2 separate regions of the Homo sapiens genome follow, and region 2 is linked to region 1. The links come from fine-mapping of genetic effects on gene expression. A gene starts in region 1. The other region holds a variant in brackets. All regions are shown on one strand. Distances are from middle to middle.

What was found. PIP is the estimated chance that this variant, and not a neighbour inherited with it, causes the effect.
Region 2: its variant is the best candidate, but not a certain one, in a credible set for the expression of OSGIN1 in testis (GTEx, PIP 0.66).

The regions. Positions count from the first base shown.
Region 1 is chr16:83,951,882-83,954,381 of GRCh38, reverse strand. OSGIN1 (oxidative stress induced growth inhibitor 1) reads right to left here and starts at 1,142. Exons shown (of 6, transcript NM_182981.3): 1 at 1,012-1,142. RefSeq lists an enhancer at 1-329 and a silencer at 818-867.
Region 2 is chr16:83,931,213-83,934,218 of GRCh38, reverse strand. No RefSeq gene overlaps it. Among named protein-coding and RNA genes, the nearest start is that of OSGIN1, 21 kb to the left of the region's middle. The variant A/G (reference allele first, on the strand shown) is at 1,578.

The DNA.
Region 1 (2,500 bases):
ACAAAGGCAAACAGGATAAAAGAAATGAAAACAGTTGCACCTTCGACTGACGTTTCTTTCAAGTGTGCGGCATTTGTACTTCTGAGGTTGTTAAAGCTGCAAACTGCTCTGAGACTCTGGGACACCTGTATGTCTGCGTTTCTTTGGCACCTCTAGTGGCCATTTACTCCTTTGCCTTTGAAGACACCCCAGGAGGTGGGTGTTCTTATCCCCATTGTGCAGAGGAAGAAAAGCTGGTCAGGAGGAGTGGGCGTCTTGCCCCAGGTCACCTAGGAGGGTCCAAGACCACGGCCATGTGACAAATCTTAGTTCTGCCAAGTCCCCTCCAGTAAAACAGCTGATTACAGGGAGACCAAGAAAGTGACACGAAGCCCTGGGGGCGCTAAAGTGTGAGGGGGTGGTCTGTCCACGCAAGCGGCACTTGCCATTTATCACAGACGAGCCCTCGCCCCAGTGCCGCACACCTGGAGCCCAGGGTCTCCTGCAGCTCCCCAGCCTCCCAGGGGCCGCCCTCCCAACCCGCCGCACTCTTGAGCCTCCTGAGAGAAGCTAAGTCGCTGGGACCTCCAGGGATGGGGGCTGTTCATGGGCACCCAAGGGCTCTGTCCCTCCTGAGCAGGAGAAGCAGAAACCCAGAAGGCACCCAGCCTGGCTGCCGACCCAGTGGCCTTGGAACAGCTGGGCAGTAAGCCCGGGCTGGCCACACCCCTCTTTCCTGCTAGGAGCGGCGGTCACATGGCCCAGGGTACGCTGGGACTGTGGCCGCTTCAGCTGCTTGGCTGAGGGTACCAGGCACCTGGACAGGGACACAGCTGAGGATCTGGGAGGAACCTGGTGTAGGGGAGAATCCTGCCGGGCTCCAGAGAACCCAGGCGAGGGCCTCCACTCAGGACCACCCGGGACCCCCGCCTGGCGCCAGGGCTCTGCAGACCCTCCGGTCCAGCTGGGCTTGCCACGGGTGCCTGGGATGTGCCTGATTCCCTGCCCCGGAACCTGGCCCCGGACACTCACCTGACAGGCAGTGGTGCAGGAGCCCAGTGAGCCCGGCCAAGTTGTGCACTAGGAGGGTCAGGGGAACACGGATCACAGAGTCCCCCGCGAGATCGGGACACCCATTACCCTGTGGGGATCCAAGAGGCTCTGAGAGGCCAGAGGGAAGTGAGGGTATTTCACGGGGAGGGAGGAGGCGGCGCAGGCAGTGGGCGGGGCCAGGAAAATCACTTTCATAAGCGTGAGTCAGCAGGGGCCCGTGATGAATGAACTTGCACACTGGGCGGGTGTCACGCTGCCTGCCTCATGGCCAGCCTTAAAGGGCCCCTGCTGGGCGGCCTGCCAGGGGGCCTAGGGTGGCGCTCCCTCCCAGCCACCTCCCCCTAGCCAGACCCCCATCCCTGGGGCTCAGTCTCTGGAGGAGGAACCAGTGACCTCTGAATGAGCCAGCCTGGCCTTTGCCATAAGCGAAGAGGAGATGGCTTTGTCCCGCACACAGTTAAAATAACAGTACCTTTAAGTGGCGAAACCCCGTCCAGTTCCCGCATTCCACCTGGATTTCACTGCACCCTCCAATCCCCAAAAGCCCTCTGGCACCAGCCTGCCTGGGCTGCGAATCCAGCTTTGCCATTTCCCAGCTGCAGGGCTCTGGCAAGCTGCCTTAGGGCCCGCACCTCAGTTTCCTCATCTGAAAACTGGGGCCAAGTCACAGATTGTCTCTACCAGAGTGGCCGTGAGGGTTTACATGACATCCTTCTTGTCTGCCATGCTTAGAACTTGAAGCCTGCTCCCAGGCTCTTCTCTCCTGTTTTATGTGGGTAGCACTGCACACCCCACACCTTGCTGTTTCTTAATTATTATTATTTTGAGAAGGAGTTTCGCTCTTGTTTCCCAGGCTGGGGTGCAATGGCGCGATCTCGGTTCACTGCAACCTACGCCTCCCGGGCTCAAGTGATTCCCCTGCCTCAGCCTCCTGAGTAGCTGAGATTACAGGCATGTGCCACCACGCCCGGCTAATTTTGTATTTTTGGTAGAGATAGGGTTTCACCATGTTGGCAAGGCTGGTCTCGAACTCCCGACCTCAGATGATCCGCCCGCCTCAGCCTTCCAAAGTGCTGGGATTACAGGCGTGAGATGCCACACCTGGCCTATTTCTGAATTATTTTATTGTCTCTCTTCCCAAACCAGAATGTGAGCTCTGTGTGGGCAGGGAAGTATATTCGTGACTGCTCTACACAGTGTCTAGAACAGCGCTTAGGACACATAGGCACTCAACATCGGTTAAACAGAAGGGAGGCAGGGAGGGAGGGAAGCAGGGGGGGAAGGAGGGAGGAAGGCAGGGAGGGAGGGAAGTAGGGAGGGAAGGAGGGAGGAAAGCAGGGAGGGAAGGAGGGAGGGAAGGAAGGAGGTAGGGAGGGAAGCAGGGGGGGAAGGAGGGAGGAAGGCAGGGAGGGAGGGAAGTAGGGAGGGAAGGAGGGAGGAAAGCAGGGAGAGAAGGAGGAAGGAGGAA
Region 2 (3,006 bases), 20 kb after region 1:
ATAAATAAGGGGGCCGGTCTGGGTTCTCTGCAAGGGACTTTACGTCTTGAAGATCTGGGTGTTTATTCTTCCAACCCCCTCCGCTCCCGAAGGAACATGAAGTGGCGTGGGAGTGGGGAGTGTGTCATCCACTGTCGGTAAGAGCAGGAAGCTTACCCAAGTGAACAACCACAACAGAAACCCTGCATGGCTCCAAGTCGCTGCTGAGACGCCGTCGCATCTGGGGGCGGAGGAGACGGGATGTTGAGGACCAAATGGTGGCTTCCCAGTGACGTGTCGGGAATCTGTAAATGCGGCCTTGATTGGAAAAGGGGTCTTTACAGAATTCATTCAGTTAGGGATCTTCGAATGAGACCATCCTGGATTTAGGGTGGGCCCCATATCCCACGACAAGTGTCCTTATATGCAAGGGGGGGATCTGAGGACCCAGGGAAGGCGGCCACAAGACCACAGAGGCAGCGGTTAGAACCAAGGGACGCCTGGAGCCCCCTGAAGCCGGAGGAGTCAACGAAGATCCTTCCCTGGAAGCTCCAGAGGGCGGGGGTCCTGCTGATGCCTTGAATTTTGACTTCTGCTCCAGATGATGAGAGGGTACATTTCTGTTGCTTTAAGCCACTTAGTTTGTGGTCACTGGTGATGTCAGGTACAGGAAACTCATTCAGGAGGAATTGCAGGGGGATTAAACCCCGGCAAAAGGATTGATGAGAAGTCTGTGGAGGATCATCTTTCCTTCCAGTTTCAGGTCTGGGCTCCAGCACAGCTGCCGGCCCTGTAGAGGTGGGGGAGGCGCATCGAGGAGACAAGGGGCATGCGCAGGGCAGGGGCTGGGGGGGTCGCTCGGCGCCTCTTCCCTCCCCAAGCTGGGCACCTGCTGCTACCCTGGTGGAACATTCTGGGCCTCGTGTTTGCCGGAGGCGAAGTCTCACAAAATGAAGGGAACAAGGGTGGCAGTGTGGCTGTACTTGATCTCATCTGCCCTTGGCTGTGACCCTGGAGCCCCAGAAGCCTTTGCTGTCAACCTTGGAGATGTTTAAAATGGGAAAGAGACGGCACGGGAGGAGAGTGACACCATGCTCACGCAGGGCGAGCGTGCGCCAAGGCCATGCTGCTCCTACAGAAGGCGCAGGAAACGGTGGCCCAAGTGCAGAGGCTCCGGCACACAGTGGAGCGTGGGGACCGTTTCTGGAGCACTCATCGCTCCCCACCACACCGGCAGAGCTCAGCATCTTTCCTGTGTTACACCGTGGGGTGTCTCAGCCTCCTCATGAGGGAGCTGCCGTTCTAGGCATTTTACAGATGAGGAAACTGAGGCAAAACAGCCTTCCCAAGGTCATCCTGCCAGGAAGTGGCGGGGGTGGGGTCAGAGCGGCTGAGCCTCCTGAGGTGAGGTCGGAGCAGCTGAGGCCCCAGGAGCCTCCACCTAACAGGCTCCGTGGCCTTTGTGTGTGCATGGGACCAGGTGTCTCTCCAGGGAGTGGGCCTGTCCAACTTCAAACCTGGCTGGACCTACCACGCCGATAAGTCCCAGCACGTGTTCCCACACTCAGAGCTGAGGGTTCCCCAGTGCCTGCCACCGT[A/G]GGAAGGACCAGGACACGTTTGGGGGTTACTCCTGGGCAAAGACTCCAAAACCAAGTGTGAGTCTGGAGTGCTGGGAGCCAGGGCTGAGGGGTGGAGGAGCAGGGCCGGAGCACCCCGACGGGGATGGGAGTGCACTGAGGCCCTGGACCCCCGATCTGCTGCCTCTGCTGGTGGAGCTGGGATCACAGGGCTGGGTGGGGCCCCTGACCAGGGACTCTACTTGCGGTCTGGGGTTGGGAACTGGGTTTCGGTGTTGTCCAAAGCTTTCCAGGTGGTTCTCATGGGCAGCCATGGGTTGTAGTGGAACAGTCTGGAGAGATCTGGGTTCAAACCGCAGCCCCGCCTTTCCTTGTGGGATCCTGGAGGCCATTCTTGCTCAGCCCTGAATGGAGCTCGCTGGACAGAGAAGGGGATGGTCTTGAACACGGGAACCAAAAGCCCGGTGAGGCTGCAGCATCTGCCGTTCTGTGGTGGGACAGGCTGGGGGTGGCCATGGGCGTCCTTGGAGGGCCTGTAGTTTATTCTCTGAGTCACACACTGTGGGGCACACAGAGTCCCCTGGGCAAGCTCGTTCACAGATGAGACTCAGGGTCAGAAAACCTAATGCTAGGCCTCTGCCGGGGACCCAAGCCTCCCCCAGGTGAGTGCCACCCACAGCCAGCTGAGAATGACAGGATGTAGACGCAAAGAGGCATGCTGGGGAGACCTGCTCCTGCTGTCCGCTCTCCCCCATCCACCAGGATGAAGGGGCCAGGCCCCAGCATGGCAGTGGGTGGGGAATCAACGAGGGGCTGGTGACCAGAGGACAGCGCCCAAGCCTGGCTGAGATAGGCATGAGTGGCGGTCGGTTCCGGGGCCTGATGACTATGGGCGATGTGTATCGAGCGCGGTCTGCACGTGGGGCGAGTGCCAGGGCCTCCCGTGGAGGGGCTCACTTCACCTCCCAGGACCCCTGCGAGGAAGAGACCCGAGGAGCCATTTTACTGCCAGGGAGATGGCAGCTCACAGGTTATGGCACTGTCCCAAGATCACACGACGGGCAAGCAACAGCACCAGGTTCCCACCCAGGCCACCTGCACCCCAGAGTCCACAAGCTGAGCCTCCTGCCTCCAGGGCCACCGCCCAGGAGCCCCTCCTCCTGCCTGGCCCTACCAGGCCCCCCAGCACACCTCACCCCTTCCTGGAGCAGCCCCTGCCCCTCCCTGCTCCAGGCCCTCCTTACCTGACAACGAAGGGGCCGGGTGCAGCAGAGGTGACAGAGGTGACCAGTTTGGCCGGGGAGGAGTGGACACACTGGGGTTGGCCCTCCCCCAGGGGACACCCCCCCGACGTGGTAACAGGGGAGCTGGGGGACAAGAGGCCAGGCTGGGCCGTTTGTCGCATCACAAAGTCCTGCCCTGGGCTTGCTGGGGTGCCCGGTCAGTGGTG